2 separate regions of the Homo sapiens genome follow, and region 2 is linked to region 1. Evidence: fine-mapped expression QTL. A gene starts in region 1. The other region holds a variant in brackets. All regions are shown on one strand. Distances are from middle to middle. Region 1 holds the start of C10orf90 (chromosome 10 open reading frame 90). Region 2 overlaps C10orf90 (chromosome 10 open reading frame 90).

What was found. PIP is the estimated chance that this variant, and not a neighbour inherited with it, causes the effect.
Region 2: its variant is fine-mapped to the expression of C10orf90 in sigmoid colon (GTEx, PIP 0.98).

The regions. Positions count from the first base shown.
Region 1 is chr10:126,668,223-126,672,614 of GRCh38, reverse strand. C10orf90 (chromosome 10 open reading frame 90) reads left to right here and starts at 1,922. Exons shown (of 10, transcript NM_001350921.2): 1 at 1,922-2,374. The coding sequence starts at 2,135.
Region 2 is chr10:126,559,605-126,563,996 of GRCh38, reverse strand. All of the region lies in intron 2 of C10orf90 (chromosome 10 open reading frame 90), which reads left to right. Among named protein-coding and RNA genes, the nearest start is that of C10orf90, 110 kb to the left of the region's middle. RefSeq lists an enhancer at 1,880-2,636. The variant A/T (reference allele first, on the strand shown) is at 2,235.

The sequences.
Region 1 (4,392 bases):
TGACCAGTCCTGGTCTCGGGGTAGCTGATGACCAGTCCTGGTCTCGGGGTAGCTGATGACCAGTCCTGGTCTCGGGGTAGCTGATGACCAGTCCTGGTCTCGGGGTAGCTGATGACCAGTCCTGGTCTCGGGGTAGCTGATGACCAGTCCTGGTCTCGGGGTAGCTGATGACCAGTCCTGCTGGCCTCAGCATTGTCCAAGGTCCTTTAATGTGTGTAGTGGTGGAAGAAAAGACTTTATTATTTGTTATCTGCCTTGCGGGGTCTCCTGGACAGGAGCAGATAGACACAAATGGGAGCTGGTTTAAATGGCGTTTTTGGGGACACAGGGAATGACCTTCCCTGTGCCCAAACATGAAGCAGATCCCCTCTTTCCTTGGTGTCCCTGTTCAATTTTCATGTTTTTATTGCTCAAATGTCTCCCATGGCTTTCTTTATCACATTGCTTCCAAATCCAAGATGGCGCTCCATGGTGTAGCTCCCTGGGAGTTTCCAGCATGACTGTCAGGTTTGAGTCAGCCATGGATGCCATCAGTTGGGTGTTGACACTCTCTTTGACATCCTTGGGAGAGCCCCAGGCAGACCCGGGCTGTGTTCTGTTTAAGGAACCATGAACTCCACTTCACTGTGTGATCTTGAGCCAGCATTTAGTCTCTGTAGGTCTTCTACTTTAACACTCAAATGAGAATGTTGGCCTAAATGATCTCTAAAGTCTTTTCTGTCTCCTCCTTCATTGTAGTTCCCATCTTCAATACTTCCATTGCTCCGAAGGTGGAAGTTCAGCATTTTAGCCCCCAAGTCCTAGCCCTGCTGAGTGTGACATGCAAAGCTTCGACCCACAGCAGGAAGTCTCACAGTTCTGGGCTAGGACTGCAGCTCTGTTTTCAGGAAAGTTATCTGGAGGCTCTTCTTCCTTTAGCCTCTCCCATGGCTTTCAATGTGGGGCAGGTGAGTTAATTATTCAAGGGGGTGTCTCTGCCAAGAGAAAGTCACCTGTGGAGAAGAGTTCTGTGTCTGGACTTGGAGCACAGCCACGATGCTGTCATCTGCTTCCTCTTGGCACACACCCTTGATCCAAGGCTTGCCATTTTCACTTCTAAATTACTAGGTTAATAGAAATGGCATCAAAACATTAAATAAAGTGAGGCATATACCATGGATCTGCAATTCTAATTGACTTGAAATTTAGAATCTGATAATTATTAGCATTGTGTTAATCTCCGTTATCATATGTGTAGCGAACACTGTGCAAAATAATTTGGGTAGAGAACGCGCAACTGTACTTTCAAAATGATGCCTAACGTGACTCTATTCTGTGTTGTTGTTTCACTGTTTTGCTCACCAGATCCTAACAATAACCCTGTGAGTGGCAGATGGGGTATTTTCCTTCCAGTCTTCCTCCTGGTAAACTGAGACTCAGGGTGGTGAGGGAACTTCCCATGGTTGACCCAGGACCAGAGCCCCCTTCTAGGCGAGTGGACTCCACCCCCAGCCCCCACGTGATGCGCTGTTTTTCCGATGCCCTCTTGCAGCTGTTGCTGCTTCTGCGCTGGGAGTTCTCTTTTTCACTTGAATGTTTTCTTCTCCAGGGCTGAGGACGCTCTTTGTATTGGTAGGCAGCCTGCACTTGTTCCTTTCAGTCCTGGCAAGTAAAAGCAGGAATTCTAAAAAGCAACGATTATTCCTCCTAGTTCCTTTGTACAGAGCCCTGTAAATAATTTATTTGGATTTGAGGGGGTAGAGACTGACAAACATATTGAATCTCTCAGTAACTGGGTGAATTCTGTGTTCAAAACTTCAATGCAGTGGAAAGAGAAATACTTCTTTGAAATCAGAGAAGACTTTGAGTGACCCGAGAGCTCAGGCGTGAGGCTGGAAACAGACCACAACAAGAAGTTTTTTTTTTTTTTTTTTTTTTTTTGGCACGTAAAGGTCACCCCTGAGGTTCCCACATCCACATCCTTCACAAATGTAGCTGGGATATTGAGACAACTAGCTCTGGAGTTGGAAAACACTGGGACAGGTCCGAGCTGGGGCACTGCCCAAGTCCCTCCTGTTGCACTCAATACCTGGGTTAAACAAAGAAAATTGTGTTTGCCAGTCTCACTAGCTAAAGTCACAAGATACTGAGTCTCATGCAGCACTCTGGAATTCCTACAAAAACTCATCCGCAGGGGTATGCTGCCCGCTACACAGAAACGGCCGTGCATCGGACTTTCCAGATAAAAACATTTAGTACAGAGTTGAAAAACCATGTGATGGTCATGGATTTTGTGAAGAGTAACTGGTTTCCCTCCCAGAGAAGAGCCAAAGTTTGTATCATCCATATGTGTCAAGGCTTGAAGACGGCTGAGCAGACAGCCAGCAGATATGAGGTATGGCTGAGCCTGGGTGGGTGAGTGGGTACACGCTTGACTCAGAGAGAGATGGACGTGTTGCTCATCAGACAGTTCAGGTGTTTTATCTGGTCTAATAAATTAATCATTTGTGTTTGTAGACTTCCCTAAGGGATTTGGAAAAGCCTTCTTCATTTCTGAATTTATTTTAGTTTTTGAAATATGGGGGAGGGGGAAAGTATATCGGATGAAGTTAATTTACGATGACACATGTCTGCATTTACAAACTTTATTGGTGCTCCAAAGACTACTGAGTTGGGTAATTTGTATCCATGTTTAGAAACTACAGCATGTTTCTGTGAGTTAAATATTCTTAGCTCTGTATGTTTGCAATCACCTGTCTTTAAAAGCAAATTCCTACTTGTTTCCTGTTGCGTTTTGTAGGAGAATATGTATGACGTGCCTTCATCGAGTTAAAATAGAATGATTCAAGTTAGGCCAGTAAGAATGATCTTTTATTTTTGAGAGCAAGCTCTAATTTTCAAGCAGAGACAACTTTGTAAAAAAAAAAAAAAAGACAGAGAGTGAGAGAACTTTGGAGATTTAAAATGTCAAAGTGAGATAAACACATTACTCTGAAACATATTTGTATTCTGCAACTAGTATCAGCCACAAGCAGTTATCTTTTCAGAAAGTAAACACGCATGAAATCTGATCGGCTGTTTATTGTACATGGAATAAATTATGAACGACATTGTAATTGACTCCCATATAGCTCATTTACCCATCTCTTTTGATAGATGTAACATGCAAATTGCTAATGCCTTATGAAAAGGTAACCTTTCTGAATATTGATGCTGTTATTAGGAAAGCCTTCCCATGAATACTGGCAAATACGCCAGGTCTTTGTTCCCCAGGCTGGGCAGAAGGAAGCCAGCACAGTGTGGAAGGAACAGGTTTTTCAAGGTTCAAGGCTGGCTTCTTCCAGTTCCAGCCCTGGGAGTGTGAATTTCCATGTTCACAACAGAGATGTAAAGGCCACAGAAATAATGGTGCTAATTAAATTCAGTAATAGTTGTTCATTACTTCATTGCCCAATCAACTGGAGCAAAAGGTGTGCAATTAGAATATAATTGAAAGAAATCAGAGATGTCATTATTCACAAGTAATTAATCAGATGGGGACAGAATTTTATCATTGCATAATTTTCACTGAGGTTATTTTCCAGTCCTCCAGAGAGAGAAAAACTTGTTGAATTACATTATTATGCATTGTTCATAGCTTCATTTTAAACCCTATGTAGCAAATGGTAGATCTGGCATTCTCGTTTTCTTCGTATATAAAACTTCACTGATTCCTATAGCCACACTGATTAAAACAATATGAAAAAAGTACACCTTTTTAGGAGGTTACAAAAAACTTCAAATATATGACAGTCACAGCTACATTTTTTTCAGGGCCCAATACGCTGCTACTATTGACAGCCAACAACCGAGCCACTAATGTTAAAATGAATGCCAGATCCAAGCCCCCACCCACAATCAGTCTGATGGGCTGGATGGGCCTCACTGTGTCCATGACTCCCCAAGTTGTCCAGGAAGGGCCTGCCTCCTCAGCTCTAGGGCGGGCCAAGTTTGAAAACCATCAGATGGGATTTGCACCCCCTGTCCCTCTGAACTTCAAGGTCTGCTCTTGACTTTTGGTAGCAAACATTTCCGATTTTAAAATATTCCTCATCCATTAAACTATTCTTCATGTTATTCCTACCATGACATCTCAGCATTATTTAGATTAGGAAATTTAGGAAGAAGGAAACTTCCTTGCTCAATTTCCCAAGCTGAACTGCTGAGAGACCCCAATTAGCACTTCTGGGTTCTGCCTTTGGACTTGGCCCAGTGACTCCTTCTCTTCTATCAGCTCCAAGGCCATTGGTTAACCTGCCCTGGGCTTTGACCACAAAGTACTCAATGGGCTGACAAATGAGCAGGGTCTCTGGGATGAACTCTCAATGCACAAAGGTGCTAGATTAAAGAAACTGGCTGGTTATCTGGCAAAAG
Region 2 (4,392 bases), 110 kb after region 1:
TAACTTCCCACAAGGCACAGGACAGCCCTCATGCAGAGACTGCTCTGGCCCCAGGGGTCAGCAGTGCTGAGATTGAGAACGCCTGTTCTCAGCTTCCGTGGTCATGGCCTTTACTCATCTGGCCCTGCACAGGACTGTGAGCCACTTGAAGGCAGGGCTGCTACTGGCTGATCCTCGGTCGGTGTTGGTTAATGAGTGCAGGATGTCCATCAGCTGCCGCCGCCAATTCCTCTGGCCTCAGGACCAAATAGTTTCACAGTGGGCAAATGAGCAAACGCTGGAGGCAGGATACCATGGGTTGTGTTCCTATGTTTAGTGCTCACAGATCCCTTTGCTGAGCAGGCAGACAGGATATTTGCTCATCATAGCCACCTCTATCACAGCCATCAATGTGGATTGGGCTCACGGCCACCAGGTGGTCCACACATTTTCACACAAATAATCCCCTTGAATCCTCACACAAACCCTCTAAGGATTTGACTGTGATTGTCCTTTTGTTATAGATAGAAAAACAGGCTCCAGAGGTCAGAGCCCTTCTTTCCCACGCTGCACACCCAGTGACCACAGGAGCTTTGCATGTGGCCATTTATGGCTCTGGTTAAACCCTGATCAAGCTAAGGCAGGGCTTGGCCTGGGCTGCCCAGGATCTATTTCACTGCATCTTGGGGGTAAAAGCTGGGGTCTCAAGGCTCATTCTGTCACAGGCCAGATGCGGTGTGAGGGTGGGGGTGGCAGGCGTGCGGTGGACGAGTGGCCCCTCTTTAGCCCCACGCTACTGCAGTGCCAATGAACTCCCCTCTTGGGGCCCAAGGCAGTGAGTGGACGTGCCCAGCATGTGCTGGTCACTTTAAACAACAACCAGCTGGAGTGCGGGTGGGGAATTTTGCCCCGAGTTGTAGCATTTGCCACTTTCTGTGGTGTAAATACTCCGGGGCTGGTTTCAAGTCATCAATGTGACATCATGTGCATGTGTGATGTCACCTGCACAGCCATGGAAAGCAATGTACGTGGGTCCCTCCGCCCAGCCCATGAGAGTGGGTGGCAGCATGCCACTGCCGGTGGCTGGGAGAAGTGAGTTCAGTCAGACACCCTTCCTCTGGGAATCTTGGTCTCTGCGCTGTGTGCGAGTGCAGCCTCAGGTTGGCAGATGGGGTTATGTGCATTTGGTAAATTGTGAAAGAAGGGGCTCGCCTGATGGTTTTACTGTCCTGGTTGGGGAGCTCTGGCAGGCTCTGCTCCCTGGATATTGCTGACTGTCAGGTGGGTTATAGGCCTCTTAGCAGCAGGCTATAGGAGAATTGTCTGTAACCACACAACTGGTGCCCATTAAAACTGATTGTGCCTTCAGAATCCAAAATAGTCCTATCCCAGGGAAGGGAGAGGAACTGCTCATTGAGCGTCTGCAGATTGCTCTGTGCCCGTTTGACAGGTGGGACAATCTGCATATCAGCAAGGTCACTTGGGCCACCCAGGGTGCCACAGGTAGCAATTAATGGAGACTGGATTTCCAGCTGGCTTGTCTGGGACTGTTCTGTCTCATGCTATCTGCAGGAATGAGGGATTCTGTTAAGAGGAATGTCTCATTGCCTGTGTGGTTAGCAGGTTCGTCTTGGTGAGGGAAGAAGGCAGAGTGTTGGTTGTGGATGTCCACTCTAGGGAGAGGCCCAGCCTTTGGACTTGGCTTCCATACAGTCTAAGGGAGGGCAGGGGGTAAGGGAGGGCAGGGGGTGGCTAGGCAAATCAGTTTGGATGTGGGAAGTTGGCAGATGCTAGCACGTGCACGCAGCAGTGAGATGAGGGCCGCATTCTCCCTCCATTAGGGACCCTCTGGGCCATGCTCATAGAGGTTCTGGATAAACTAACGCCGGCAGGAAGCTGCTGGGCCTGCAGTGGCCTCTGGGCAGCCTGTCGCCACTTGGGCAGAGGGGAGAGAACGCTGTCAGCACTTCAGCGGGAGGGCGGCACCCAGGACTCTCCAGCTGAGGTGCTGAAGCCAAAATGAACGCTTCATGTCAGGCCCAAGATCTTTCCTCAGTTTTCTAATTAGGAAGACCTTTCTGGTCATAGCTTTTGCATCTCTAATTCATCTCTCAGTGGGGGGTTCTTTCTAACTTAACTTCCAAATTTACACCTCTCCTCTCTTCCTGTGCTCCTGTCTGGAGGTGTTGACTGGCGCTCAGCAGGCCACCCGGGGCCCGGGGAAAGGGGCCTGCTCCCTCTGTGTCAGGCACACA[A/T]CTGTCCACTGTTTGCCTGTCCTCTCTGTTCCCTGATTCTCTCTGCTTGGAATGCAGTCATTGTTTCTGTGAGAGAGTCCCTTGTTTAATTTGCAGCTGCAGTTCCAGGAGATGACATTTCTCAGTCACATCCAAACCTCATTGCACTGCGGACTTTCTGTGGCTCCTGCAGCACGGAGAGTGAAAATCTGCTTTCGTTTTTGTCATCGGAATTCCACAGTCCTCCAACCCGATTCTGGGAGCAAATTTTAATGAATTCAGCAGAAACTTGTGTAGCAGTGATAAAATGTAATTGCCTACAATTTCACACCCACAGTCTCCTCTGTGAGCTGCAGAATTTCAGCCAGCTTGCCGCTTTGCAATTTCATCTCCATGGAATCACTCTCTTCTAAGGTATTCAAGCCTCACGTGTGCTTGAATGAAATGTGTGGTGAATTTTCATCATGATACCAAGAGCAGAAGCAGTCAGCAGTGCTATTAAGATTAATTAGAGGTTGAGGGCCCACACTTTGGAAACAGCGGCAGGTTATGAATTATATTCTTGGTGTACTTTCTAAAGATTCTTCCAGAAGTCTCCTGATTTTTTTCCAGCTGTTATGGTACCTTTGGCTGCACATGGTGACTGAATTGTTTGTCCACTCTGACCACCTCTTTGCGAGCAGGTGGTAAAAACCAGTGACAGGAAGTGGAGGGATGCATTGTACTTGTGTCTTAAATTACCTGTGAGAGTTTGGTTTCATCCAAACAGCTAGAGGGATGTACTCCCAACATAGGCTTTGTAGGGTGAATAGATACTGTCCTAGAAGATCAGGTTCCCTGATTCTGTAAGACCTCTGAGCTAAGCATGTTTTCTACATTTAAAATGGATTAAAAGAAGCATAATCTTTTATGCCATGCAAAAATTATACAAAATCCACGTTTCAATGTCCAGAAATAAAATTCTGTTGGAATGCATCCACGCCCATTGGTTGACATATCATCCAGGGAAGGTCTCACACCATGGTGCAGAGTTGAGTAGCAGCAACAGAGACAGCATGGCCTGCAAAGCCTATGATATTGACTCTCTGGCCCTTTCAGAAGACGTTTGCTGACCTCTAGCACAGAAGAGCAGGCGTCTCCATGGGGATGGCTTTGGTTCCTCTGCCGTCACTAAAGAAGCACCGTGCTGGGGCTCTCTTAGTAGGGTTACATTTTCGATGATGCCCATGGGGTCATTCTGGTTTGAGACCTATGCCCTCCAATGGCCCTGAAGGCCATTGTGAGTCAGGACTGGACACAGTGACGAGGCTTCCTGGTGGTGGGACAGGACTGCCCATTAAGATGAAGTCTCAGGGCCTCCAACCATGCACCGTGCGCGTCGGCAGCTTATTATTCACCATTTATCACCGTGCCTCGAACCTTCAGCAAAGTGAGAAATAGTTTGCCAATGAAGTAAAGTGGAAAATTAATTTGGTTTTCCTCCTATTGCAAGTGAATGCTGAAATTAAAAATGAAGACTCGGATCACTGGTGTGTTTTCATCTTAGGCTGAGTCTTACCCACTTACAAATCACTGAGGTTGCGGGGATTATTTCCTTCTGAAAGTAATTCTTGCTGGCCAAGGGGAACTGTCTAGTGAGATTTGTTGGGGGGAACAATGGAGCAGTTGTATAGAAATATAATATTTATTGTTAAGAGCAGATATTATAAACTGAAAATGTATAACCTTCAGGCAGCCTACCTCCACATAAGCTGGCTCTTATGAGAGGAAAGGAAAGAGGCCTAGAACTTGAAACGGCCAAATATGCAGTTCTCCGCGGTGTCTAATTTCACATTATTTATCATTTATAATGTCATGCTGCATTTTCTCTGAAACTCTTGAGGGTCTAATTTCAGTAGAATTTCCGGCAAGTATTTTGAGCATGACTAGGAGCTGTTAGTAAACACTAGGAAAAAATATTCCTGACTTGCTTGCTGAAGGAAACCCTCTGAAATAAGCTGTTATATAAAGTATCCTGACTTGGCTGGTACTTATCACATAAGAACAAGGTGAGGTTTCTTGGTTGGTTTTTTAAATGATTAGGCTTCTGCTTAGAGATGGCAGAGATAATCCAGCTTCTCTGGTACCCATCTTCCGATCAATTCCACCAGCACTGACCTGTAGCAACCAGGCGGAGGCA